Regions from separate parts of the Homo sapiens genome. Here region 2 is linked to region 1. The links come from fine-mapping of genetic effects on plasma protein levels. A gene starts in region 1. The other region holds a variant in brackets. All regions are shown on one strand. Distances are between the middles of the regions.

What was found. PIP is the posterior inclusion probability: the model's chance that the variant is causal. Protein levels are from antibody-based Olink assays in UK Biobank. Linkage for the fine-mapping came from a reference panel and not from the study's own genotypes, which makes the PIPs less certain.
Region 2: its variant is fine-mapped to the plasma level of the FAM171B protein (UK Biobank, PIP above 0.99).

The regions. Positions count from the first base shown.
Region 1 is chr2:186,680,196-186,695,499 of GRCh38, reverse strand. FAM171B (family with sequence similarity 171 member B) reads right to left here and starts at 1,440. Exons shown (of 8, transcript NM_177454.4): 1 at 1,089-1,440. The coding sequence starts at 1,326. ITGAV (integrin subunit alpha V) reads right to left here. Exons shown (of 30, transcript NM_002210.5): 30 at 14,599-15,304. RefSeq lists a silencer at 1,277-1,636.
Region 2 is chr2:186,761,467-186,776,770 of GRCh38, reverse strand. It overlaps FAM171B (family with sequence similarity 171 member B), which reads right to left. Exons shown (of 8, transcript NM_177454.4): 8 at 10,812-15,292. The coding sequence ends at 13,948. Among named protein-coding and RNA genes, the nearest start is that of FAM171B, 75 kb to the right of the region's middle. The variant T/C (reference allele first, on the strand shown) is at 7,715.

The DNA.
Region 1 (15,304 bases):
CAGCACTCATATAGTGTTACCAGGCAGGATTTTAAAACAAAAACAAACGTCATAATAAAATTCACTTTGGTTTCACAAAACCTAAGCCCTCGTGCCAGAAAATTGGAGGCTTTTTTTCTTTCCAAATAGCAGACAAGAATCTACAGCCATGAAGCGAAGTGGGTTGCGGGGTAGGGAGATGCAATATACATGGATAATCTAGCTATTTGCTTACCGATGGAGCTTTAATGGGGGGAAAGAGGGAGGAACTGCGGAACTGTTACAGCCACCTATACTACAGCCGTATTTCTACACCTTCACTGAACAGTGTCAAGAATCTGCCTCATTTAAGTTCTACTAACAAGTAAGGAGATTTCTCTCTCTAGGGATAGGCTTTTGCTGTTCTAACACCACTCCAGACTTCACCTTATGTGTCCCCCTCTCCTTTTCCCTTTCCTTCAATTACAAACTCCTGTTTTGTTTTGCTTCATCTTATTGTACTAAAAGAGTTCTTTGCAATAAGATGAACCCTTAAACCCTTCCTGGGGTAAAGAGAAAGAGAAATAAATAATAAAATATATAAAGATTTCTCTCTTCATGGCTAAATTTAAATATAGCAGGCATGGAGAAATGGTGAAAAGGGGTGTGTGGGTGTCCATGGCAAGATTTCTCAGTCTCTAGGAGAGAAAAGGATAGAGAACAAAATGTTTAAGGGATTTAAGAACGGTGTGTGTGTGTGTGTGTGTGTGTGTGTGTGTGTGTGTGTGTGTGTTACAGTCATTCCCAGGGCAGAGGGTAGAATTCAGGAAGAAGGGAGGGAAAAGAAAAAGATCAATCCAGGCAGTCACCCACCCCCAGCCTTCCCGACCCCTCTCCAACCCACCGCAGTGCTCTGAGCTGCTCAGAAAGCTCATTACCCGGAGGGCAGATTCCCGACACCAGATCAAGGGACCAAAGGCTGGGCAGCCAGTCTGGGGAGAGAGATCGGGAGGGATGGTGACAGGAACGAACGAGGATAGGAATGGATAGGGAAGGGGCGAGGAAGCCGGCGAGGCCCTAAGAGATCGCCGGCCGAGACTGAAAGACCGGGCTGGGCAGCCAGGACCTACCTGGAACCGTCAAGGTGGAGGTTGCCCCAGGCACCTCTGTCCTCTCCTCCTCAGCCTCCTCCAGCTGCTTTTGCTGTTGTTGTTGTTGTTGCTGCTGCTGCTGCTGCTGTTGGATGAGGCTGAGGTCGGAGCGGCTGAGTTCCGCTCTGGCGGCCGCGGGGACCAGCCGCGCTTTCAGCAGCACCACGGCCAGGCCGAGAAGCAGGGTGCAGGGGACACGCCGGCAGAGCCTCGCCATGGCCTAGAGCCAGAGGGCCGCGGCGGCATATTGCGGGGCTCCGGGCGGCGGCGGGCGCCAGGGCTGCGGGCTCCTGGCAGCGCCCGCTCGCTCGCTCCCCCTCGCGCAATCTGCCAAGCACTCCCTCACCGGCAGGAGGAAGAGGCCCGGGAGGCGGAGGGGGCGGAGGAGGAGGGAAGGGGAGTTCGCATCCTCGCGCATGTGACGCGCGGGGAGGGGCGAGCCGGGGCCCGCGGTCCCGCGCCCCGCAGCCACCTGGGGCCAGGCTGCTCCGAGAGGACGCGATGCTGGGGCTGCAGCCCGGGTGGAGGGCCCTAGGGGAAACAGAAAGGGGAGGCCTTCTGGGAGCTGGTAGACCCTCACAGCGTCCACTTCCCACTGAGGCACCGGGAAGATTTGCAGAGAGTGGAATAAAATTCCTTCCACCTGAGCCCAAAGTAGCAGAGAAGGTGGTATATTGATTACCCCCATCCAGCACATAGCGTGGGTGGCACCAACGGATCAAAAAGCCAGGATCTCAAACAAATAGGCTTTGCTGCATCACCGCCATCATTGCTTAGCTAGAAGTTAAACTGCAGCGCGCCAGATTTTGACTAAACTTCTTTTCTCTGCCCTAGTGGGAATTTCTTTCCATATCATTAAATATTCTTAATTACATTTTATCTAATTCTAGCCTATCCTTTTCATTTGTTCAAAAAAATCTTACTAAATACTAGTTGCTTACCATGTGCCAGCATTTCTTCAGGTGCTTGGAATAAGTAAAATACAATCCCTGCATTCCAGGAGCTCAACATCTATTAGGGGAGAGGAACACAGGAACAAATTAGAACCCAATGTGGTGGCTACAAACAGAAAAGCAATACAAGTCCAGAGGTCTCAGAATTGGAAGAAAATATCTTGTGTATGTAGGGGCTATGAAACACCAGGAGAGGTAGAATATAAAAAAGAGTAAGACTTCCACACAGGAGAAATCAGGAACGTGGAAGAGTGTGTGTGTGTGTGTGTGTGTGTGTGTGTGTGTGTGTGTGAAGCCCAGATGTGTGTAAGCACAGTGGGCTTGCAAAAGTGTGAGCAATTATTCTAATGGAGGAATGACAGTGTTTTAGATTGAAAAGGAGAGTGGAGACCAGGTCATTAAAAAAATAATAATAACAAGCATTTCTATAGTACTTACTGTGTGCTCAAGTACTTCACATTTGTTAACTTCTGTAATAAACTTAGATGCTGTATACAGAAATTGAAATTCACACAGTAGATGATAATGAAAGAAATTAATCAGGGAAGAAACTTGCTACCAGTTGTGCATTTTAGGAGGATCACTTTGCTCTCAGTATGGCAGATGGATTAAAGGGGGATAAATTGGAAGAGAAGATGCCAGTTTAGAGGTGTTTGCCAAAACCCATAGGAGATGCCAAAGGTCATTGAAACTGAAAAGGAGAAGAAAAGAGTAGGAGACACAGTATATAAGACTACAATAAACAGATACGGTTAATTGGAAGAGGAGGAGATATGCCTAGTGTGACACCTAAATTGACAAATTGAGATCTTAGGTGGCTGCTTATGACCTTATCAACATTAACTGGCCTAGAGTAATGAGCCCTGCCTTGTTCAGTTGTGGTCTCTTTGTATTTGGAGTAACTGTGGGACATCTCATAGTGCAATATAAATGTCACCTGCTGTGACATCACCCCATTTACCATTGTAGTTCATTGTCCTTTTCCACCCTTATCATTCTTACCTTGTCCCTCCCAGTGTTTTCAATATGCTGGAAAACAACAAACTTCTCAGTACTGGAAAAGTATTTTTTGGTTAAGCAAATGAAAATAGTGTATATATAACTAATGGTTTAGATGTTTTGTCCTTTCCAAATCTCATATTGAAATGTGACCTCCAATGTTGGAGGTGGGGCCTAGTGGAAGGTCTTTGGTTCATAGAGGAGAATCCCTCATGAATGGCTTGGTGCCCTCTTCATGGTAATGACTGAATTCTTGCTCTGAGCTCACAAGAGATCTGGTTGTTTAAAAGTGTGGCAACTCCCTTCTCTCTCTCGCTTGCTCCCTCTCCTGTCATGTGACACGCTGTCTCCCTTTCACCATCCACCATGATTGTAAGCTTTCTAAGGTCTCACCAGAGCAGATGCCAGCACCACACTTGCGTTGTACAGCCAGCAGAACTGACCTAAAGTAAACCGCTTTTCTTTATGTCACCCGAAGTTTACTGCAATGCAAATGGACTGACACAATAACCATAAATAAAATAACAGTAGGTATTTTGCATCTATTATCTCATTATATCTTCAGAGCATCTCTACAAATTAGCTCTCATTATCCTATTTAGCAAATGGAAACACTGGAGATCAGAGAGGCTCCATGTCTTGCCAGAGGCTACATTTACAGTGTGTGACTTTACCTTTCTGCACCGTTTGAGACTTCTGCTATGAGTTTGTATTGCTTTTTTAGTGATTTTAAAACAAAAATAAGGTATGTGGACCACATAATTTTGGGGAAAATAGATACTAAAGTGAGGCCCCTCACACTAAACATCATTCTTCCATCAGGACTTTCTTTCCCTGGTCTGTGTGAGGCAGGAGCCATTGGGGGAGGGGGCTCCAGAGCTGAAGGCAGCAAGTTTCCATTAGTTTCATCAAGCTGTTTTTATGGCAATCTCTTCCAAGTTACCTCTGCTCCTGGAGAGAAGAAAGGAGAAAATGGAAATGGCTCCAAAAACCTGACTGGTGGATCAGAAGGAAAGGAATGCAGCCAGGATTTCTGTCATCCTGCCTTGGGGTAGCCAAGTTATTTTTAATATAGTAGAAGCAGACCTTCTGGAGGCAAAGCCACTGGGTCATGGACCCTGGTAGAGGGTGGACCTCAAATCTTTCAATACTATGGACTGTTTTAAGAGGTAAGTGTTGTCAATCAAGAGTATTTAAATAGTTTTTAAGTGCTTCATTATTCGTGTAGTTCATGCTTAATTTCTGTGCAATATAAAAAAGCCATATTATCCGATTCAATTGGGGATAGTACTTGGCAAATGAAAAAAGTTCATCAAAAGACCAAAGTCAATACATCCTAAATATATCTTAAGCCACATATTTTACCCTAGAATAAATAAATATATATTTGTTCACAAATCTTTTGATGTAGGGCCAAGAATTTCAACCACATCCTAGAGTTTGAAGTCATAAACCACAGTTATGATATACCACTATGATTTGCAGGTTTAGTTTAAGTGGAAGTTCTCAAAGACCCTTGCCACACAATTAGAGTGCCAAGTCATTCTATGTTCAATTTTTTTCCCAAGCTTGTAGAATTTTCTCATATACTTAGTATTAAACTTATATTTTATTTTATTTTATTTTTTGAAACAGAGTCTCGCTCTTGTCTTCCAGGCTAGAGTGCAATGGAAAAATCTTGGCTCACTGCAACCTCCACCTCCTGGGTTCAAGCGATTCTCCTGCCTCAGCCTCCTGAGTAGCTGGGATTACTGGTGCATGCCACCACGCCTGGCTAATTTTTGTATTTTTAGTAGAGACAGGGTTTCGCCATGTTGGCCAGACTGGTCTTGAACTCCTGACCTCAGGTGATCGCCCGCCTCAGCCTCCGAAAATGCTGGGATTACAGGCGTGAGCCACCACACCTGGCCTAAACTTAGTTTTAATAGGAAAAATTTACTTATCTCAAATCCATATTGTATATATTCCTTATCACACATATAACTGGCAAAAAAGAAAAAGTTTGTGAAAAATATAACTGACTTTTGGCACAGGCACAACCAAATGACAGGAGTAAACATAGGCAGACATTCAGGAAGATGTAAGCTGATAACTACATTTGCCCTAAATGTTTGTCTGTGTGTTTTACAAAGGAATGAAAAATGCCAGTTAATCCAGCAAGTTATTTTCAGGTACATAGTCCATGATAAAGTTTATGCTAAACACAATGTAATCGTTAAGGTTAGAAATTCATCATTTTTAGAAAAATGCCCCAAGAGCCATCAGAAAGCAAAGCACAATACTATACACATATAATTCTTCCCCACTTAAAACCTACTGGTACCTCCTCATTACTCTTAGCACAAATCCAAAATTCCTAACATGATTTACAAAGCCGTTTGCAATATGTCCCCTGACTACCTAGGTTCAGGTTCATTTTAAAAATTTTCCTGCATACACACACACACACACACACACACACACACACACACACGGGAGTTTCTTCTATTCCTTTGAACTAGATTTGAGTTGCCCCTAGACCTTTAAATATGTGATTTTCCCTGCCTAGAAGTCTACTCCTTTACCCGTTTAACTGGCAAGTTCCCCTAGAGCCCGAAGAGTTCAGGTTAGATATTACTTCCTCCAGGATTCATTCCCTAACACCCTTAGTTTGATTAGGTGCCTCTGTTATGAGCTTGCGTGGCAACCCATATTTCCTGTTTTGATCTTATTATTTAAAATGGGCATTTACTTTTCTGTATCCTCACTTACTAGCCCCACAAGAGCCAGGACCATTATGCTCACAGCTGTGTCAGCAGCTCCTACCATGATACCTGGCATTGCTTGTTTGATTGATTACTTGGCTGATTAAATCAATAAAACAATTTTAAGAGGCAGAACTGTTGCTTAAGGGTGGAGGACCATGGTATCAGACTGCTCTGGTATCAACCCCTCACGAGTGATGTAATTTACATGAGATTCTAGGCCTCAGTTTCCTCAACTGTATAGGGGGAGAAATAGTAGAACCTAAAGGAGCTAACAAAATAAAATAACATGTGAAATACTTTGAATTTCAGCCCAGAGGAAGTCTTCGGTAAATGTTAACTGTTATTTATTTTGTTAAACTTGTATATGATTGTTCTGTTTTGTTTATATGTATCTTATATGTATATAAAATTTCTAGATCATGATGCTCATCTGAAGATAAAAAGAAAAAAATTAAAAACAAAACAAAATGCATGTTATATGCAATCACTTCTCATTTTTCTCGGTAGTGAATGTTCCATTAAGTAACCGTAAACGTTGAATTAGCAAATACTGAACCATTCCTCCTAGAGGAAATACAAGTTAGGTTCCTGTGAACCTCTCATCACAAGATTTTTGTCAACAGATCAATATAAAACTTGTTTTATGTGTGTTTCTGTTTAAAGACACCATGTTTATTTTATATATTATTGGTTCAACAACATTGAAATCACAGACAATAGCACTGTAACTCATGTCTAAACAAAGCTTACCTAACACTTGTATTTTGCCTCCAAGGCTCATCACAGCCTTCTGGTACTAAGAAGTGCTAGACAGCACTCCAGTATTATACTGGAGAGCCATTTTAAACAACAAAATCACCAGGAAAAAAGCACACAACTGTGAAAAATATGGTGCTAAATAGACCACAGAAAGGACACATTTCCATTTTAAGAGCTGAACAAGAAGGAAGAGCATCTTCTCATTTGACCTCAGCTGGGAATGTTCATGTTGGGCAACTCCATAGCTGCATGCAACAGAATGAAGTTAGACCCTTACTTCACATCATTTACAAAAATTAACTAAAATTGGATCAAGGACATAAATATAAGAACTAACATTATAGAACTCTTAAAAGAAGTATAGGGATACATTTTCGTGATGTTGGATTCAGCAATAATTTCTTAGATATGACACCAAAGGGCAAGCAACAAAAGAAAGAAATATATATATATATTGAATTTTATCAAAATTAAAACATTTATGCATCAAAGGACACTATCGTGAAAGTGAAAAGACAACCTACAGAATATAAAAAGAACTCTTACAACTTAAAGCAAAATGACAGACAACACAACAATATTTAAAATGGGCAAAGGACTTGAATAGTCATTTTTTTCAAAGAAGATATAAAAATGGCCAATAAGCACATGAAAAGATGCTGAACATCAACAGTCATTAGTAAAATGCAAATCAATCACAATGAGATACAACTTTACACTCATTAGGATGGCTATAATTTTTTTTAATGGAAAACACGTGTTGGCAAGGACATGGAGAAATTGGAACCCTCATACATTGCTGGTGGAAATGTAAACTGGTGCAGCTGCTGTTTACATTTGGAAACAATTTGGCAGTTCCTCAAAAACTAGACTAAAATTAAGGGTTATATAGCAGGGAAGAAATGGAACTATGTGTTGGAAAACGGGGATTAGGGAAGAGTAAGAAAGAGGAGTTCATCAACAGGAAACAGGTGGTTGGTTAGGCAATCATGACAAGTAAGAAGTCTGAGATCTCATTGTCCAGATGCCATGATCTGTTAAGTTTCAGTTCCTTGATACTCTCTGGGAGGCCTGCTGGTGCTTTCCTGAGAAAGGAACTCAGATAACACAAGTGTAAATTTTTCAAGTTTTAAGACTGGTAGGGTCTATTTCTATGTTTATTAAAAATAAACCATAAATATCAGTTCTATGGGACAATTGGCCTGGTTTCAGTAGAAATAAAAATGCCTCCCAAAGATGTCCATGAGGTAATTCATAGGAGCTGTGAATATGTTACCTTACACATAGTTTGGACTTTAAAATCCAAAGTGCCTTAAAAAGATTTGGCAGCAATGTAAAACTAATTTATCATTCAATACATGATAAAGTAATGAAGCTTATCCAGTGACAAGACTGCATGCAACTAGGAGAGGATAGAGAATCGGTAGGGAGAAGAGCTGGATTTGGAGAATTAAAAGTGAGAAGACAGGATTATTTCTGTATGGTAAATAAACCAGATTCTCAGTTCTGTCATTAAATCACTGCTATACTGCAGCTGCTTTAGGGTTCCCTTGAAAGGCTAGGGCTGTCCATTGGAAAGAAAGTAAAATTAGTTACTGGTGTGTCATCTCTATTTGTTGGGAATCATTAAATACCTGTGGGATGATTGAGAGAAGACCTTTCTGTTTCAGTTTGTGCTAGTAATTTAGCACCAGGTGAAGTGCTTGGGTCTGGTTTAATAGTCAAGGTGCAAGTCAGAAAGTCAAAATTGGTATTACTATCAAACAGGAAATTTACTTATTTAATAATTTTTTCCTTTTTATTTCCTCACTAAAGTATACTGAAAAATTCAAAATTACTGATTTGTCTGCAGACTAGGTAATAATATCCCTGAATTTTAAAGATGTTTATGTCTGTTATAATCTCAAAAACAACTTTATCTACATTGTTCAAAGATGAAAAAAAGTATAAGCCACCAGAATTTTCTATGAAAAACCTATCATGTACCATACACAAGATCAAAAATAATTTCTATTACTCTGGTGAAGAGCATAATTCTCCAAATTGAAAACTACTACTAATAATGTAGATCAGTTGACACTTTTTGAATAACTTAGTGATAACTAATTAATATTCTGAATACAGGATTAACTAAAGAGTAACCCCTAAAGGGTCCATTTTAACACCCTAATATCTGAGAAAGGAAGTAAAATAACTTTAAGATTAATTACTTTGAAACAAAGTAGGTATTTTTAAATAACGTGAAGGTAAATTACTGTGTAATGACCAAAGTCAAAACCTAAACACTACTTTTATTAAAACTGATAATATATTTGCTATGCTTCAGGAAAATGGGGTTGACAAGGAAATGGTATGAAAGGGACCATAACCAAATAACTTTCTAGGAAAGTCAGAACACTTTAGAAAGTGAATAAAACATTACTTGGAAAAATATTGTTGTTGCACAAATTGATATTCGGGCATTGCAACCTATTCACTAGATAACAGCAATTCTATTTTATGAGCTATGTTTAGTAATCTAGGTAATGTTGCACAGCAGAAAGCATACTGGACCAGGAGTTTGAATGTGTAAGCATTAGTCCTAATCCTGCTAGTAACTGCCTTGGCCAAGTAATGAATTTTCTGGGGATTGTTAACATTAAGAAGGGGTTGAGGCAAACTTCTTCTAGCTTATGGCTTTTAGGAGTTTGACCTTGATGTGCCTAAAAGATGTCCTGTTTAGGGTTCACTGAGCTTCCAGAATTGTAGGTTGCTATTTTTTAAATCAAATTTGCAGTTTTTGACTTCAAATAATTTGTCTGCCCCATTCTTTCTCTGAGACTGTTTTTCCACCTAGTTAGATTGTCCCACAAGTCACTGAGGCTGTTTATTAATTTTTTTTTTCTGCTCTGTGCTTCAGTTTGGATAAATTCTGTTGATCTAAATTCATTGATCTTTTATTCTATGCTACCTCACTCTACTTTTGATCCCCCTCCAATGGATTTCTGATTTCAGATACTACTTTTAATCCTAAAATATTCATTCAAGTGTATTTAATTAGTTTCCCAATCTTTCCTGAAATGCCCATCTCTTCATCCATAATATTCATGTTTTCCTATAGACCTTTGAGGATTTTCATCGTAGTTATTTGAAGTCATGTCAGCTATGGGTACACAAAGGCATACAGAATGGACACTGGAGACTCAGAAGTGGGGAGGGTGAGAGGGAGTGAGGGATAGCAAACTACACATTGGGTAAGATGTACACTGCTCGGGTGAAGGGTACACTGATATCTCAGACTTCACCACTATACAGTTCATCCATGTATCCAAAAACCACTTGTACACCAAAAGCTATTGAAATAAAAAAAAACAAATTGAAAGATAAAATATTTTTAAATATAAAAATAACAGAAAAAATAAAGTCATGTCTGCTAAATTGTTTGTGGGTCTGTTTCTATTGACTGATTTTTCTCAAAACTCTGGGTTATATTTTCTCACATTTTCCTGTTTCTTCCCATTCTTCCCCACCCTCCTCCCCTCCATGACATTGTGGATGATACATTGCAGAGTCTCTATGTTGTGTCATCTTCCTCTGAAAGTAAGTCTTTACCAGCAGTCAGTTAAATTACAGGTGTATCATAAACTTGGGGAAGCTTGGTTTTACAGTTTGTTAGGGTGGGCCTGTTTTGGCTTTTTCCTTCATCCTAGGGTGAATTAATTAATCTTTGGATGTACTACTTATTCCTAAGGCATAGATCCAATGGGGTTTCAATGGAAAAATGGGTTTTTTGAAGCCCTGTAACTAGTAAGACTTGAACTTTCATCTCTTGTTTCTTGTGCAGTGGACAGTAGTAGCTGGAATAACTGCTCCATTCTTTCAGCCTTCCCTCTGTTGTTTTCCTCTGGGCCCCTTATAGCCTCACTCAGTGCTGGGTTCAGCCAAGGATTTGAGGGAAATATTTCCCACCTCCCACCCTGTGACTGCTTCCTTTCCTGGATTTTTCTCCTCAATTTCTAGCCATAGTGGCAGTCTCATCATTCCAGAAAGAAAGACAGCTTTCTGTTGTATTCTATCCGTTCCATAGGGAGTAACCTCAGGGGTAAATGTAGCTGCCTTCTTTAACAGTTAAATCCCCTCCAATTTCTGCCTGCTTTCAGTAACTTCAATGTCTTCAAAGGATTGTTTTCCACCCTATTTTGTTAAGAATTTATCATTGTTATCTGATAAAAGCTATCCTGCCATTATTGAAATTGGAAACCCCTATTAAACTTTAAATGCCTATGATTCTGTTCTTGGTCACTAAAATTATTTATAATCTTTTTTTTAATCAAGCATGTCAAAGTATTATGATATCTATGATCAAGTTGCTTTGTTTACAAGAAAGTTTTTAATTAAAAAAAATTTTTTTTGTAGAGATGGGGGTCTCACTGTCTTGCCCAGACTGGTCTAGAACTCCTGGCCTCAAGCAAACCTCCTACCTTGGCCTCCCAAAATGTCAAGATTACAGACATGAGCCACTGTGCCCAGCTGGTTGCCTTTAGATTTAGCTTATGTACAAGCAACAGACTGAACAAATGCAAAGGGTATTTGGGGTATAACCTAGCCAAAGAGTGGTATGGTAAACTCAGCAGGTAATTCTGATCCATTCATGATTTCAGCAGGCTCTTCATCAGGAGTTACAAACTCAAATTCCTACAATGGCTAGGCAAATGAGTAATGAGAACTTAGTCTCGTGAAATAAACGGAAGTCTCTCTAGGATTTATGGTAACCCCAAAATTGCTTGACCATCTTAGTGCAGACCTTACTCAGTTCCAATGCTGTATCCAAGCAAGAACACAGGCTCCTATCCTCAAGAATACCGTGGCTCTTAGAATTCAGAATCTCTGTCTTTGGGGTATTTATAATACATTAATGGTGCCAACTAGTTCATTTATTTTTAAAATACCTTGAGGCCAAACAAAACAACATCAGGCCACTGTTTGCAACTTTGTGATTTTGCTCCTGATCCAAGATATTCCCTGGGATTGTTCTATCTCATCTCTTGATGCTAATCCTGACCCTCCTTCTCCCAATATGTTCTAGATCTGCTCTCCTCAAGTTTTCCTTCTTTCCTTATCTACATCATATCCTTTAAAATGTGTTTTGCCCCTTAATGTACAAAACTGCTCAAGAATTTTCCATCTGTAAAACAAACTTTCCTACTTTTGCTTTCACCTCAAACTACAGCCCGTTCTCTTCCTTTCTAAGCCTAGCCAAGCCTAATGCCTATCCACTGCTTGACCCACTGTAATCCGGGTTTAGTGCTTGACCACACCACTGAAATGGCTTTCTGTAAGGTCACGAATAACCCACTCTTCTCTTACTTTGTTTCTCTATGGTTACTTTGTTTCTCTATGGTCTTGCGTCACAGTCTCTCTTGACTTTTTTTTTTTTACTTCTATAGCCAAGCCTCCTGGATCCTGGCCATCCCATCCTCCTTTTAAATGTAAAAATTTACTGCACTGCCTTCTTCCTGTCTCCTTACTTTACACATTTCTCTTGAACAATCTCATCCATTAGCTTCTATTAATACCCATATTATTTCTCTGGCTTTGATCTTTCTCCTGAATACCAAGGCTTATGTTTACAAGAACCTGCTGGAAATTTCCATCTGGATATGCCATAAGTACCTCAAATGTAATGTACCTTTTCCTCTCCTAAACTCTCTGCTCTTCCCCAAATCTCTGCCCCTTTCCTATTTCCTGCCTCAGTTCTCAGTCCAGCCAATCACCCAACCCAGAAACCTATGGATTCTACATCATACATTATCCTAAATATGTCTCCTTCTTTCCATTCCCATTGTTACTGGCCTGGTTTATTTAAGCCCTTATCACCTCTTCTTGGCAGTAATATGAAAATATTGCCAGCCATCATTCTGTCTTCTAATATGTTAATATACTAATATACATAAGTACTTTGCATATATTTAATATTTCCAAAGATAACACTACATGATGAGGTAGCTATTACGATGTCCATCATATAGGATATAATAAAAAGGTATGGAGGGGCTAGGTGGTTTCTGCAAGGAAAGACACTACTGTAGAACACATTAAGAGAGAACATCCTGGGGACATAACAAAGCTCTACCACACGCTAGTGTGAGAGCTTTGATAATCATTCTCTGAGCTGATTTCAAATCAATAAAATGGGTATCAATATAGTATCTATAATATTAGCTATTATATAAATTATTCATAATAAATAGACATATCACCAAAGCAAAATACCAAAGCTACTTCTTAGAAATAAGTAGTATAATTTCTTTTTCTAAAACGCATACAGTTCTGTCACTTTTTGCCAACATGGCTGCCGGTGGTTGAATTTTATCGTATTTCAGGCCTGTTCAAGAATGTTTCTTCATATGGTTTGGCTGTGTCCCCACCCAAAATCTCATCTCAAATTGTAATTCCCATAATCCCTACAATCCCTACATGTCAAAGAAGAGACCAGATGGAGGTAACTTAATCATGGGGGCAGTTTCCCCCATGCTGTTCTATTGATAGTGAGTTCTCACGAGATCTGACGGTTTATAAGTGTTTGGTAGTTCCGCCTGCATTCATTTTTCATCATGCTGCCTTGTGAAGAAGGTGCCTTGTTTCCCCTTTGCCTTTAGCCATGATTATGTTTCCTGAGGCCTCCCCAGCCATGCTGAATTGTGAGTCAATTAAAACTCTTTCCTTTATAAATTACCCAGTCTCAGGCAGTTCTTTTATAGCAGTGTGAAACAGACTAATACAACTCTCTATAATGGCTTGCCTCATTAATGATTTATCACCATTATAAGGTTCGAAGGATGTTTAAAATTAATCTTGGAAAAGAGAATTCCACGGCTCAAAATTTTCTTCTTGGACCAGTCAAGTGAATGATGGAAGAGACTTACTGGATAAGCACTTAACATATGCGTTTGATAACCCCTTTTCTTGCATTTTCACAAAGTCCTCACAAATTTACCCTCTGTGGACCAAGATACTTCCACAGAGGGTAAATTTGTAAGTGACTGGGAAGAGCTTTGAACCCAAGTGGTTTCAACGGTTTTCAAAATGATTTCAGGAAGGGCATGGTGGCTCACACCTGTAATCCCAGCACTCTGGGGGGACAAGGCAGGCGATCACTTGAGCTCAGGAGTTTGAGACCAGCTTGGGCAACATGGCAAGACCCCATCTCAAAAAAATAAAATCCTTTCATATGTGTTATCTTATTTGATCCTAAAGAGCAACTAGTAAGTCAGGCAGGACAGAAAGGCTCTGCCCATTTTCTAATTCTCACACTCAAAATACTTCCATGTGTAGGTGCTGTACATTTTACATCTTAATTGGAGCCAAAATATCAAGTATGGTGGTCAGGATAGGGGTAGTTATGACTTGCTGGTCCAGGGGAAATATCACATCTAACTAAGCATATAGTGTTAGAAGTAAGGACAGTGGTTACTTTTGCAGGGCAGGGTGAGATATGATTAGAAAGAGACAGAAGGGGGCTTGTGGATGCTGGCAATACTCTATCTTATTTCCATAGGAATTTACGGTGGTGTATTATGCTACTTCAGTATAATTTCCCAAGCATCTCAACACTTAATTTTCTTCTTGGTACTTTTCATTTATAAAAATAGGTATTTTTATACTAGAATTGCATATGTATATTGCAACTGCATATATGCAATGACATATATACACTATAATTAAAAATTATAAAAGATGTAAATGTGCATTTTAAAAGGAATCTGATAATGTAAAAATAATAAAGGTTAGCATAATGAATTTAGAAATGTTTGTTTAGAAATAAAATAATTCTTATATTTCAGGCAAATACATATTTGCCTTTCTAAGGATGAATTTTAATGTGGTACATTTTGCTCTTTTTGTGTTTCTTTTCATCAAATAACTGACATTCAAGATTTGAAGTTTTACAGAAAGTTACCTCTGAGGTCATCCTTTTAGTGCATTATTGCTAGCTCATGTAATCAAAAAACAAAAACACGTCACAGAAAGGATAAACCCCATACACAAAAGTGGTACCATATGCTTATGTTTATTGTACAGTCACAAGTTACATGTTGTAAATCAAGCAGAACACTGTACCAGTTTTCACTAACTCAAATCAAGTTAGCAAATTACAAATTTTAGAACAGATTCATTTTCTGTCTCACCCAATGTGGGTGACCACAAAGATATTTACTTTCTATGTTATTAGGTAGCAAATTAATTTGATATACTACACAGCTTCCAAGTTACCTTAGGATATTTCAAAGTGTTTCAAAACTGGTAAAGAATAATTCATTTCCAGCCTGAAATACAATGCAGAATGGACCATTTAGGGGTAAATAACCTCACTTAATCACTCTTTCCTGCTAACAAAAATAATACAAATATTTGTTTATATTAGGCTTACTAAATTAATGACAACTTTGAAATTATCTAGATTTGGTTACATTGTTATATTGCACTTGAGAACAATGACAAAAAACATCAAAGATTCAGTACCTCTCCCAAGAAGTTCATTATATATCAGAAATTAAAATGAAATATAAGCATATATTGCATGCTGCATATTTCTATCGTTCAAACCAGCCAACCAACAAACTAAAAGGAATACTCTCCAAAACACTGAGTATTAAGTAATTTCATCTGCCTTTTTTGATCCTACAATCATTTTTCAAATTTTAGGTGTTTTTCTTTAAATTATTCATCAAACTACTACATATACAAGCTATCCAAG
Region 2 (15,304 bases), 81 kb before region 1:
GTAGCTACTGTAATTGGGATTGTTTTCTTGATTTCTTTTTCAGATAATTCATTGTTAGTGTTTAGAAAGGCAACTCATTTTTGTACATTGATTTTGTATCCTGCAACTTTATTGAATTCATTTATTAGTTCTAAAAGTTCTTTGAAGCCTTTAAAGCTTTTAATATATAAGATTATGTCATCTGCAGAGACAATTTACTTCCTTTGTGATTTTAATACTTTTTTTTTTCTCTTGCGTAATTGCTCTAGTTAGGGCTTCCAGTACTACTTGAATAGAAGTTGTGAGAGTGAATATTGTTCCAGATCTTAAAGGAAACGCTTTCAACTTTTCATCATTGAGTATGATGTAAGCTGTGGGCTTGTCACATACGGCTTTTATGATGTTGAGGTGCATTCCTTCTGTAACTAATTTATTGGTAGTTTTTATCATGAAAGGATGTTGAATTTTGTTAGATAATTTTTCTTGATGCATTGATAATATGATTTTTGTCCTATATTCTGTTAATGTGGCATATCAATTTATTGATTTGCATATATTGAACCATCCTTACATCCCATTAATAAATCCCACTTTATCACAGTGAATAATCATTTTAATGTGCTGTTAAGTTTGGTTCACTAGTGTTTTGATGAGGATTTTTGCATCTGTGTGCATCAGAGATATTGGATTGTAATTTTCTTGTAATGGTATTGTCTGGCTTTGGTATCAGGGCCTCATATAATTCACTTGAAAGTTATTTCTTTTTCTTTGATTTTTGGAGGACTTTCAGAAGGATTGGTATTAGTTCTTCTTTAAATGTTTCATAGAATTCAGCAGTGAAGCCATCGGATCCTGGGCTTTTTTTGGTGAGTGATTTTTTTAAAATTATTAATTCAATCTCCTTGCTTGTTATTGATCTGCTCAGATTTTCTACTTCATAATTCAGTCTTAGTAGGTTATGTGTATCTAGAAATTTATCCATTCCTTCTAGGTTATCCAATTTGTTGGTGTATAATTGGTAATAGTCTTTTTATTAACCTTTTTATTTCTGTGTCTTTAGTTGTAATAGCTCCTCTTTTATTTCTGATTTTGAGTCTTCTGTTTTTTTCTAGTGAAAGGTATATCAACTTATCTTTTAAAATATAACAACTCTTAGGTTTATTAATCTCTTCCATTGTTTTCCTAATTTCTATTTTTTCCTGGCCTGATCTTTATTAGCTTCCTTATACAAACTTTTTCTTGGTTTGTTCTTCTTTTTTCAGACCCTTTTGGTGTAATGTTAGCTTGCATATTTGGATTTTTTTCCTTTATAATGTAGGCATTTACTGCTTTCGCTGCATTCCACAAGCTTTCATATGTTTTGTTTCCATTTTCTTTTGTATTAATATATTTTTTAATTTCTAGTTTAATTTCTTTTTTATTTTATTTATTTATTTTTTTTTTTTGAGATGGAGTCTCGCTCTGTCACCCAGGCTGGAGTGCAGTGGCACAATCTTGGCTCACTGCAAGCTCCGCCTTCCAGGTTAATGTCATTCTCCTGCCTCAGCCTCCCGAGTAGCTGGGACTACAGGTGCCTGCCACCACGTCCAGCTAATTTTTTGTATTTTTAGCAGAGACGGGGTTTCCCCATGTTAGCCAGGAAGGTCTCGATCTCCTGATCTCATGATCTGCCCACCTCAGCCTCCCAAAGTTCTGGGATTACAGGCATGAGCCACCGCGTCCGGCCTTAATTTCTTTTTTGATCCATTAGTTGATCAGAAACCTATTGCTTAATTTCCACATATTTATGAATTTTTCAATCTTCCTATCATTGCTTTTTAGTTTCATATTATTGTGGTCAGAAGAGATATTTGAGATGATTTCAATCTTCTTAAATTTGTTTTGTTTTATGACACAACATATGATCAATCCTGGAGAATGTTTCATGTGTATTTGAGAAGGATATGTATTCTGCTGCTGTTAGATGGAATGCTCTCTCTATATGTCTGCTAGGTTCCTTTGGTTTATCATTCAAGTCCACTTCATCCTTATTGACTTTTTTCCTTTTTGGTATGGATAATATATCCATTGTTGAAAGTGGAATATTAAAGTCCGCCACTGTTACATTGCTGTGTATTTCTCCTTTGTGTTAATATCTGCCTGTTATATTCAGATGATCTGATGGTGGGTGCCTATATATTTACAATTGTTATAACCTCTTGATAAATTGACATCTTTATTATATATTAACACTTTTGTCTAATGCAGGCATTTACTACTACACTAGAATTTTACAGCTTTACAGTTTTTGACTTAGTCTGTTTTTTTCTTTTATAAGTATAGGCACCCCTGCTCTCTTTGGTTATAACTTGCATAGAATATCTTTTTTCATTCATGTACTTTCTATGTGTCCTCAAGCCTAAAGTGAGTATTTTGTACATAGAATATTATTGGATCATATTTTTTGACTTATTAATTTTTTTATTTCAATAGGTTTTTGGAGAGCAGGTGGTGTTTGGTTATATGAATAACTTCTTCAGTGATGATTTCTGAGATTTTGGTAAACCAAAACATCCAAGCAATGTACACTGTACCAATGTGTAGTCTTTTACCCCTCTCCCTGCTCCCATCCTTTCCTTAGGTCCCGAAAGTCCCATTTCCACACCTTTGCATCCTCATAGCTTAGTTCCCACTTATGATTGAGAACATAAAATGTTTCCTTTTCCATTCCTGAGTTGCTTCACTTAGAATAATGGTCTCCAGTTCCATCTAGATTTCTGCAAATGCCATTATTTCATTCCTTTTTATGGCTGAGTAGCATTCCATGGTATATATTGATATGATTTGGCTGTGTCTCCACCCAAATCTTATCTTGAATTCCCACGTGTTGTGGGAGGGACCCGGTGGAAGGTAATTGAATCATGGAGAGCAGGTTTTCCCATGCCATTCTTGTGATAGTGAATAAGTTTCACAAGATCTGATGATTTTAAAAAATGAGAGGTTTCCTGCACAAGCTCTCTTTCTTTGCCTGCTGCCATCCATGTAAGATATGACTTGCTCCTCTTTGCCTTCCACCATGATTGTGAGGCCTCCCCAGCCATGTGGAACTGTAAGTCCATTAAATCTCTTTCTTTTGTGAATCGTCCAGTCTCAGTGTGTTTTTATCAGCAGCGTGAAAAGGGACTAATGCATATATACACCACAATTTATCCACTCATTGATGAGCATTTAGGCTAGTTTCATATTTTTGCAATTGTGAATTGTGCTGCTATACACATGCATATGCAAGTATATGTTTTGTATAATACCTTCTTTTCCTCTGGGTAGACACCCAGGAGTGGGATTGCTGGATCAAATGGTAGTTCTACTTTTAGTTCTTTAAGCAATCTCCACACTGTTTTCCATAGTGGAATGATTATTCCCTCAAATATGTTTAGATTTCTCCTCCTCAAGAACACCAATTATTCTTAGGTTTGGTCTTTTAACATAATCCCAAACTTCCTGAAGGTTTTGCTCCGTTTTAATTTTTTTCTTTGTCTTTATTGGGTTGGGTTAATTCAAAAGCCTTGTCTTCAAGCTCTGATGTTCTTTTTTCTGCTTGTTCAATTCTATTGCTGAGACTTTCCAGTGGATTTTGCATTTCTCTAAGTATGTCCTTCATTTCCAGAAGTTGTGATTATTTTTTATTTATGCTGTTTATCTATTTTTCTATTCATATCCTGTGACATTTTTAAAATTTCTTTAAGTTTGTATTCACCTTTCTCTGGTGCCTTCTTGAGTAGCTTAAAAATCAACCTTCTGAATTCTTCTAGCAATTCAGAGATTTCTTTTCAGTTTGGATCCATTGCTACTGAGTTATTGTGATCTTTTGGGGGTGTTAAATAACCTTGTTTTTTCATATTACCAGAATTGTTTTTCTGGTTTCTTCTCATTTGGGTAGACTATGTCAGAAGGAAGATACGGTGCTCAAGAGCTGCTGTTTGAATTCTTTTGTCTTATGGGGATGTGGTACTCTCCCCATTCCCCTGGGGATGGGGGTTTCTGAGAGCTCAACTATAGTGATTGTTGTTTCTCTTCTGGATCCAGCCACACAGCAGAGCTAGTGGGCTCTGGGCTGGTTCTGTGGAGTGTCTGCAAAGAGTCATGTGATGTGATCCATCTTCAGGTCTCTCAGTCGTGGATACCAGAACCTGTTCCAGCGCATGTAGCAGGGGAGTGAAGTGGACTCTGTGAGAGTCCTTGGTTGTATTTTTGCTTAGTGCACTGGTTTTGTGTTGGTTGGCCTCCAGCAAGGAGGTGGTGCTTTCAAGAGAGTATCAGCTGCAGTATTACAGGGAGTATACAAGCTTGCCCTAAGGTCACCTGGGTAAGTATTTGGGTGTCTCAGGTGGTGGGTGGGGCCACAGAGCTTCCAAGAAATTATGTCCTTTGTCTTCAGCTACCAGAGCGGGTAGAGAAAGACCATCAGGTGGGAGCAGGGTCTGGTGTGTCTGAGCTCAGACTCTCCTTGGGCAGGGCATGCTTAGGCTGTTGTGGAGGATTGGAGTGTGGTTCTCAGGCTGATGAAGTTACATTCCCAGGGAGATTATGGCTGCCTCTGTCATATCATACAGGTCACCAGAGAAGTGCAGGAAAGCCAGCAGTGACAGGACTCACACAGCTCCCATGCAGCTGGAAAGGCTAGTCTCACTCCCACTGTGTCCCCCTAACCACACTGAGTTTATTTCCAGGCAGCCAGTGAGCAGGGCTGAGAACTTGCCCCAGGCTACAAGCCTCCCTGCTGAGAAAGTAAACAGGGCTTTCAGGTTTCATGCCTCCCTACCTTCTGCAGCTTCTGTGTTCATATTTGTACTCCAGGTCACTCCCTCCCCCAGTTTCTGTCCAGGAACCTTCACCTTGAGTTGAAATTGTTACAAAGTTCAGCTGAATGTTTCCTGAATCTTTCATCTTTCCCCAGTTCCACTGCCAGCCCTCCCCAAGGACCCCTATGAAATAAAGTCAGAAATGGCTTCCCTGGGGACTGAGAGTGCCCACAGGACTCTTCCCTGTGCTTCTTCTACCCCCATATTTTTCTCAGCTCTCTAAATTTGTCTCAGCGCCAGGTAAGGTCAAATTCTTCTCCTGTGATCTGAACCTTTAGGTTTCCCAGTGAGGATGTGTGTTTGGGGGTGGATGTTCCCTCTTTTACACTTTGAATACTCACATTCTTTTGGCTGTCTCACAGAACCTGCAACAGCAAGCCGCTTCCTTCAAAGGGCTTGTGGAGTCTCTGGCTTTCTTGGTATGTTACTGCACTAATCCTTGGAGCAAAAGTTCACAGTGTGAGCCTCCACACACTGCTCTGAGTGGGAGCTGAAGTTAGTCCTGTCTCCTATCTGCCATTTTTTTTCCAACTGAGATCATATTTTTTAATCCATTTAAACACTGTGTCTTTTGATTGGAAAATATATTCATTTGCATGTAAAGTAATAATCAATATGTAAGAACTTTTGCCATTTTGTTGTTTACTAATTGTTTCATCATTCCTTTTTTCCATTATACCATTCTTTTCTTCCTCCTTTGTAATTTGTTAGATTTTTGAAGTGCATGCTTTGGTTTTTTTTTGTTGTTATCTTTGTGTATTCACTAGAGGTTTATTTTTTCTTTGTGTTCACCACAGGACTTTTACGAAACATCTTATTGTTATAACATTCTATTTTGAACTAAAAGCTTAAGTTCAATAGCATACAAAACCCACACTTCTATTTCGCTCCTCACCACATTTTAGGCTATTGATGTTATATTTTACATCTTTCTATTTTGTTTATTTATCAGCAAATTGTAGTTACAGTTATTTTTAATACTTTGGTCTTTTAACTTTTGTACTAGAATTAAAAGTCATTTACACACCATTATTACAGTATTAGAGTATACTGGATTTCACTAAATATTTACCTTTACCAGTGAATTTTGTACAGATGGTCCCCAACTTACATTGGTTTGACTTATAATTTTGTGACTTTATGATGGGTTTATCAGGATGTTTCCCCATTATAAGTTGAGAAACATTTGTACTTTCATATGTTTTCATGTTGCTATTTAGCATCCTTTTGTTTCAACTCTAAGAACTTCATTATTTCTTGTAAGGCAGGTCTACTGGTGATGATGTCTCTCAGGTTTTCTTTGTCAGGGAATGTCTCTCTGTCCTTCATATGTGAAGGACAGCTTTGCCAGTTATAGTATTACTTATTGACAGTTTGTTTTTTTTGTTTTGCACTTTGAATATGTTATCTTACTTCCTCCTGGCTTGCAAGGGTTTTGTTGAAAAGTCTGCTGATAGTCTTATGAAGGTTCCCTTGTGTGTAATAAGGCACTTTTCTCTTGGTGCTGTCAAGATTCTATCTTTGATTTTTGACAATTTGATCATAATATGTCTCAGAATATTCTTCTTTGGGTCTGATAGAGTTTGGATATTTGTCCCTGCCTAAATCTCATGTCGAATTGTAATTCTTAGCCTGGTGGGAGGTGTTTGGATCATGGAGGTGAATCCCTTGTGGCTTGGTGCTGTTTTTATGAGAGTGAGTGTGTTCTCACAAGGTCTGGTCACTTAAAAGTATATGGCACCCACGCCCGCACCCTCCCCGCATCGCCTCCATTTTCTCTCTCTTTCTTTCTTTCTCCTACTTTCACCATGTGACAGGCCTGTTCCCCCTTCACCTTCTGGCGTGATTGAAAGTTCCTTGAGGAGCTTCACTGGAAGCTGAGCAGATGCCAGCGCCATGCTTCCTGTAAAGCCTGCAGAACCATTGGCCAATTAAGTCTCTTCTTTATAAATTACACAGTCTCAAGTATTTATAGCAATGTATGAACAGCCTAATACAGGGTCAGTCTTGCTTAGGGTTTTCTGAGCTCCATGAATCTGGATCCTCTCAATATTTGAGAAATTTTCAGCTACTATTTCTTGAAATAAGCTTTCTTTAGCTTTCTCTCTCTCTCTTGTTTCAGAAACTCCCATAATTAATAATATATTTGTATTTGATGGTGTCCCATAAGTCCCTTATGCTTCCTTCATTCTTTTTCTTTCTATAATTGGGTAATTTCAACTTACCTGTCTTCAAGTTCGCTCAGACAACTAGCCTATCACCAGCTGCACAGACTGGTGTGGCTTCATGTGGGTTTCTGGGAAGGCTCCCCCTGGGTCACTGAGTAGTTCTCTGGACAGGCAGTGTTGTCCCCAGCCCACAGATGTGAGGGACTTAAACAGTTGCAGGGCTGCTTCAGGTTCCACAGCTGAGACTAAGGTTGACAGGCCTGCCTCTAGGAACTGAGAGACAAGTATGTCTCCCCCTGGGGACCTCATGGGGCAGGACTGCTTGCAGTCTGCAGCTGACAGAGCTGAAGACAAGTCTCTTAGCCATTTCAGGGTCCACAGGAAGAAACAAAGTCAGCAGGCCTGTCACTGAAGGCATAAATGGTGTGACTCTACCTGGGTTCCTTGGTGGGTGATTGTGGTAGCAGGATCAAGGCCAAACATGGCTGCAACTGAGTCCTCAGGATGACAGGGCCATTTCCAGGTCTGGAACTGGGACCATAGCCTGTGAGCTTTCTACATGGGCATAGTTCTACCCTCTAGAATGGCCTTACTAGGTCTTGAGCTCCAGGAGGTTTTCACAAACTCCTATCTGAATTCCAGAGCTCCCACAAAGCCACTTTTGCCTTTGTTGCTTGAGAGGATACAAGCAGGGGAGCTCCTATTTTACCATCTTGCTGATGTCAC[T/C]CTCTCCTCTTCTCAAAACATTTCCAATTATTCCATTGAACAAAATCCATTATCATTCATCTAATTCATAACTCCATTAATCAATATTTATTGAATACATACTGTACTGTTAAGAATTGGAGGAATTGTAAAGCATGGTTTCTGTCCATAAGGATCTTATGGTCTAAGAAGACAAACATAAGATATCAACATAACAATTTTGTACATGCAATCAGGCAGTATTTTCTTTAGAAGTGAAATGAGCTCATCTTGGGGCAGATGGAATTTTCAAAATTTCCTGATTCAGATTAATTTCTTACTAAGGCTAATTTTAATAGTATCAAATCTCATCTTCACTTAAAAAAAAAAAAGGCAGGAAAGACAGGTCCCAATTTCAAGAAGAGTAAGTACAATTCTCTTATCACTGATTCATTACAGCTTGCTCTTATGTCTCATTGTGAAAAAAGAAAATAATAGAACAGTGGCAAGCATTACTTTTTGAGAAACCAGAGTTTCAGAAAACAGGTATGTGTTAAAGATTGTTAGCATGAAATTCACTTTCAAGATTCTTTTCTTGTCATTTTATTTAAACATTAAGGAAAAAAACTTATTCAGAGAAATAATTTTTCCCTTCCTTTTATAAGTATAAGCACTCCTTAGAAATAATTGGTAAACTCCTTAATTATAGATCTCATCTACTTGTCATTAACAACCTCTTCAATGGTCAATATTCACATCAATAGTGTTTTGTTAAATAATACATGGAATAATGACAAGCAACTCTTTTAAAAATCAGAAATACTAAATTTTTAAAAGTAACAATGAGAAAATATCTGCAAAAGTATGTTAATAATTATCCTTTTTTGTATTTTATGGACACAAACCTTTCAGAAATTATCTAAATCAGAAATCAGGGTTTTGAAATAGTCTTTATTATAAAATTTTGGATACTGATAAGCTAATTTTTTAAGCTGAATTTTTTAAAGTATTTTTCTATGAAAAACAAAAGAATCTACATTATTGGATTGAAATATGGAAATATGTAAAATAAAAATTCTGAGATATTTACTCTACATTGCTTAATAGCCACTATTACCCTTTCCGGATAGCCCCCATTTAGAAAAAGTTTCTAACTAAGCTGTTCAAGTGTAATAAGTCCAGAGACTCTTGGGAATGTAATTGTCTTATTTGTTTTGAATCAGACTGTCTGCAGTTAGTCTAGTGTTTTAATAAGGTCTACAAGGATTAGAACTAGTCAACATATGAATTATGAAACCCCCAGTCAACCTGAAGAACAGAAAAAAAATCAATCCATGGGGAAAATCTGGTACTCTTGCAAGACTGTGGAATACCATTCAGAACCATAGCAGAGGTAGGCTTGAAAACCAGGAAATAATAGGTTTCAACTAAGAAAGGTTTTGTTACCTAGGGGGATAAAATAGCATATGCTTCTAAAGATGTGAACTTTCTTTTTTAAAAATAATCTGTGGGTTTACATCATCATGTAAACTTTCCCAAAAGAAATAGGAAGCTATTCATCTACTATAGCTAACAAAGTGCAGGAACGTGTTATTGCAATATTTTAACAAACATCACAGGTAGTTTTAAAATGTAATCTTTAAGCTTAGCTATTTTGGAAAGAAAATAGTTATTTTTTTCTAAGGCACGTACCATTATATACTTGATGAAAATGTTTTTCCATCATTTGTCATTGAGATTATTAGCTTTCAGCATTTAATATGGCAAATTATGGTTGACTTCTAGACTATTTTCTTCTAGTCAAACTCTGAAGATGTTATGTTTTAAAAATCTTAATAGGCAGAAATCTAGTCCCCAAATAAACTGAAGCTCAAAATGAAAAGATAAAGACAAGTCAAAGAAAGAATATTTATTTTGATGGAGCAAACAAATTCAAAACTAAGAAAATAAGGCAATTTTTCCTAGAAGAAATTAGCCCTCTAGTTGATTTAGAGAGAGCTTACCGATATAAGTAAGCTGTCTCACTGTGTATCCATCTGTCAAGAAATCCACCTATAAAAAGAGGTCCACAGGGTGATTTCATGGGGTCTAGGTAAACAAACACTGTGGTGTAGTTTAAATATTTTTCCAACATTTACTTCAAGGAAAGGATCCCTGATTATCTGCCAGTTATTAAGTACCAAAAGGTGAATCACTTTTGATAAACTGATTAAAATGTCTCTTAATTATATCCAACTACTTTTCTTACAGTTCTTACATCTCAGTCTTCCCATATTAGTTTCTCTTCTGAGATGAGAATGTGATGATCAGTTCATGACCATCATGTTTGCCAGCTGTTTCTGATTGATGAATAGTTTTGTTACAAACCAGTACCATGTGAGTTAGCGTCCCCTATGGCTCCTCCAGGGGCCATATAATTTCTGGTAAGACTAAGACTCTCTTGGATGGAGACCAGGCTCCCTAACAAAGGTAGCCATAGCTTGGCTGGCACATGCAGGGATCCAAGTGGAAGTATTTATCATACAGCCAGTGCTGGGAATTACAATGTCTACTGGTGAGTGGATTCAGAGTCCAATTCCTATTAGAACTGACCAAAGCTATTTTTAGTACCTTATTAATGTATAAAAGTTACATGTCTAAAAACATGGCAGTCAAGATAATTCTAGAAAGTATTCTAAAGTCCCCTAATACAAACTGCATGAACTTAAATATTGTTCAATTGATTAAGCAGAAAGGTTATTGAAGAGCTAACTCTTTTAAGTATAAATAGCCTTTGTGTTATCATTTAGACTCAGGTTTAGAGTTCAAAGAATATTTTAAAAGGGGGTTGAGGGTTTACTGTATCATTTTCTCACTTAGGTGTTTTGGGATTTGTAATTTATTTTAGATTCAATCAGATTGTCTTAAATCTCCTCAGTGGATGGAAAACAATTTGTCCACACTCAGCTCTAATAGTAAAAATTGGGACTTTGTAGACATGAAATATAAAGAAATATCGAGTTCATTATATAAATAAAAGGGTTTATTTTACTGTAGGAGATGTAATAAGTAAAAAGTAATAATTGAATATTTACTAGATTAAATGGCAATGTAGGGAGGAATGTTTTCTAGTTCACCAAAAATTAAACAATGCTCCAAGTACATTTTAGATTTATTTTATTATTTTTAATGAACTATGTTTAACATTTTACAAATCTTCAGGTTGTTACAGTTTTCAGCAGTAAATATAGTAGTAACAGCAATAAATACACCGAAATATGAGATTTCTCTGAAAGAATACAAAAAATAGAAACACCTGGAAACAAGAAGGCAAAATGTCAATTCTAGATCTGAAATAGAAATTAATACAGCTGAATTCCTTTACAATGCTCGTACATGGGAAAATGAGAAACTCATGCGCCTTATAAGAATGTGTGACTTTGAGCTTCACCTTTTTAGGAAGTTTTGAGGGACATCATTTGACCCACAGATCTCTAAAACCCTATAATACGTATTGATACCAGAGGATTCAAACACATAGTGGTCTGAAAATGATTGCCAAAGCAAAGAAGTGCTTTCATTCCTCAACATTTGTAATCTCTGTGGTATATTATGTATTATAAAAGGGCATAATCCCTATAGAACTGAAAGGGCATAATCCCTATACAACTGCATAAAGTCATAAAAATTGATTTATAAAGTCTCAAGATCATAATATGTATTCAAAAATACATACAGCTGTGCTTTAGTAAATGAATCCATCAGTTAGTCAAGAGATAGTTTTGCCTTTAATATATATCCAAAGTATATACAAAGGATCGACAAATGTTAACAATTTGTGACCAAAATCATCTAGGTTTATATTTGAAAAAACCTTGGTTTTCAATTTAAAAATTTAAGAAAGTTGTGAATATTGTTTATTATCACTTGGGTTAAGAAAAAGTAGATGGTTTCAGCTTTTTAACAGGAAATTTGTGAACTACTCACAAATGAGAAGTCACACTCTTTTGATCATTAGAAAAGATAAATTGCCTATAATTACCAATTGAGAACAGCATGTGCAGTGTAAAAAATAATAAGGTTTTATTCTGAAAGCAAACAAGTAGTTCTAGAAAAGCCCTTGGGATACATCATCTCATTTCCCTTACACAAAAATGAATAAAATAAGTGGCATACCTGAATGGTATACCCTTATACCAATATGTGTATTTCATTACCAAGCTGAGATGAAACATTTTTATTTAAAGGTGGGAAAAATAAACACTTAAAATATAATGTTTTGCTATATAGTTTCTAACTTCATTCCAACATAAACAATTTATCAATATATACTGTATTCAAAAAACAAGAAATACTACTCACATGCAATATTTATTGTTCCAACATGAAACACTAGGTCTATATTTTTAATAAAACTGCACATCTGTTTAATTTGGTTAACTGAAAGAAAATGCACACTTAAAAAAGATGTTATATCCTTCTAATAATGCAAGTCTATATCAAAGGCACTTCAGCAGAGCACTAACTTTAACCTTTTCCAAATCATTTTGAGTCATGCTGCTTTTGATGTATCTTTCTGTGTAAGACCAATAAGAAGCCTTCTCTAATTAATTGTTATGAGCCTTATCACTAAAAAAAAAAAAAAAAAAAAAAAAAGGAAGCCTAGGTATTACCCAAAACATTATTTCTTCTATGGATTGGGGTAATATATAGCAAATATTTGCCTAGGGTCTTTATGTTCTTTCAGTTAACACAGAACAGTAGGAAGGTTATTTGACACGTTAGAAGTTGGAGGAAAAAATTGCACATCTAGCTATAATTTTACTGAAGCTAATGTGGCTGTTTTGGTTCACTGAACTTGTTTACATGGTTTGGGTCTCTATGCTGCTCCCATGTTGAATAGGAGGGAATGAAAAATAAAGCAATTTAGGATTTTTACCCCCACAAGGGAAAGGTGCTTCAGACATTTGCCTTCAGGGAAATTTTAAGAAAAATGGGATCAGTTGATTTTAATGAATAACGAGCTTTTATTTTTAGGATGTATGAATGGTAATTCAGAGTTAATTAAAAAGTTGTTCACATTGAATGCTTGCTATAATGAAAAGAACATAGATATATTACTTACAAAACTGAAAAAAGAAGTTGCAAAGGCTTTAAGTGACTTAGGGAAAAACTTTTACTTTTCCCCTGAAATTGAAACTGTTTTCCTTACACATCTTTTAAGAAAATCAATAACTGGATATACAACTATCCTGAAGGTATTTTTGAGCCTCAGGAAAATGGCATCTCTTTTTCTTCTCATCAACATTTAAGAAAAACAAATCAATGTATATTTTATCTGCACATATTTTATTTTAGTGTTCAAAAGAAACTTTCACATCGACTTTTTTTTTAAATTTCATAGCCTTTAAGTGACTGAGTTCAGGTTTTTAGAATAGAAGAAATATATTAAAACCAATTTAGCCTAAAAGTATCAGTGAGCCTTAAACCAAAGTCATAGATTGTTTTTTTCAGATTTGTAAAAAGTTTCCCTTGACAGCTAAGCTTGCTTCATTGTTGAGGGGAAGAAAAAATAATTTTTAAATAAAAACTCAGTATTAGAGCATTAATTTCTCAAATTTCTAAATTAACATCTTACTTATTTTGTAAAGTTATATCCAAAAACAACCAAAGAGCTGGTGTCTCCCTCTCTAATGACCAAGTAGCTTCTTGCCCATCTTATATAAATGTAGGATTTACGTTTGGGATGATACAATACACATGCTCTTTAAAGACCAAACAACATTTTCTTTGTGATAACTCCAGAGTAACATCAGTCCAAGTCATTTATCAAGTTATTTTTAAGTATAGGCAGAAGAAGACGTAATAGTAACATTTAAAATAATATGATGCCTGAAGTCAGTTTTGTTTCTAAATGTTCCATGGGGTAGTCACCATGGTAGAGGCAACATTTTTGGAGGCAACTTGAGGAGTATATATTTCACTGTTATTCTTAAGAGAGTCAAGGCCAAACTGGCTGGCTGAGCAACATTTTCAGATAACTAACATCTTGAAGCTATTTTACATTTTGAAAACTTAGATACTGTAAATTCATCACCCAAAAATAAATGAATAGGCCAGAAAAAGCATTCCTTGGTATCTTTCTCTCTGATTACTGAATTACCATTTACTCTGCTTGAGACATGTCCAAGAACCATGAGATTGCTCAGTCTCATTTTCTTAAGTTCGTACTGCAATTTACAACAAGAAGCAAGAATAAACAGCACGAGACAGCAGACACACAATCCCCATTGGAGTTAATTTATGGGAATCAGTGGGCGTTCCTCTCGCTTCTTCCAGATGTTAGTCTTGCTATCTCTTTTGGCTAGTGGTGGTCTGCCCCTTCTTTTAGTGGGGGATGTATTAGCTTCAAAATCTTCAACAGTGCTTTTCCTTCCTGGCGACTCTTCTCCAGGGTGCTCCATGATCACTCCACTCCCTCCATCTAGGATGTGCCTTAAAGCTGGGTCCTCAGGGGAACAGACGGTGGTTCCACTCTCACTGCTGCTTAGGTCTAAATCTTCTAAGTAAAGGATCTTGGGCTGATGCATGCTTTTGATGAATGTTTTCTCCCTCTCGAGCTTTCTACTTGAGTGAAGCTCATTCATGTCCACCCCAGAGTCCAGACTGGTGTCATTGCTCTGGGTTCTCTTGCCCTTTTTCAGGTCTATAAAGGAGTGCCTCACTTGTGCAACTGGCTTTCCATCAAGAGACACAAACCAGGCTCTGGGATGCGGGGAGGGCTTTCCTTTGGACAGCTCCAGGAGGGTCTGTTCTGAAATTCCTTGAAGTTCCGATGAAAATGGAGTCATTACAACAGCCTCATTTAGTGTTCCAGGAACAGAGACGGATTCCAGTAAGCTGCTTGAGTATCGGCTCCAATCTGAAGCCTGGGATGGCAGGCTCTGTTGACCTTCAAGTATGATATCCTCTTCCCTGGCATCTGGGGGCTGTGCATGAGAATGAATTGGCATTTTGGGCAAGGTCTGCGTAAAGTTCTCTCGATTTACTGGTTCCATCAATTGGCCATAGACTAACTGTCCCTTTCTTGGCAAAGTAGCTGACTTAGCAGTATGTAATTGTTCCGGTGTGGAGAAAAGGTCAGATGTTTGAAGGATGGCAATGGGTTGGCTGTAAATATGCATAAGCTGTTCAGGAATATGGGAACGCCCATACGCCTCCTCATTACCTGTGAGATACCTCTTTTCATCTTGAGCATCACCTAGAGATGAAGATAGATTGTTGTTAATATGTTTAGGTTGTTTGGACCCTACATTGGGCTCCAAAGACTGTGTTGGGTTTCTTGAGTAATTATTTTGATTGACTGATAGAAATGAAACATCTTCATTGTAGATTTTAAAATCGTCCCGAGTTTTTACCATGGAAACTCTTTCTTCTGTTTCTGCCTTTGATGGTTCCTTTTTCTGAGGACTATATGAGGAGTTTTTGGCATTGAATAACTGCGACTTGTCCTCAGCTTTTAATGCAACTTTAACTGTACTGATATGATTTATGTGTGTTGTTGAAGTTGTCTGGTCTCTCTTGAGGACCTCAAGTTTAGTGATATTTCTTTCTCTTTTCTGTGGAGTACCACACTTGTCCCTAGAGTAGAAG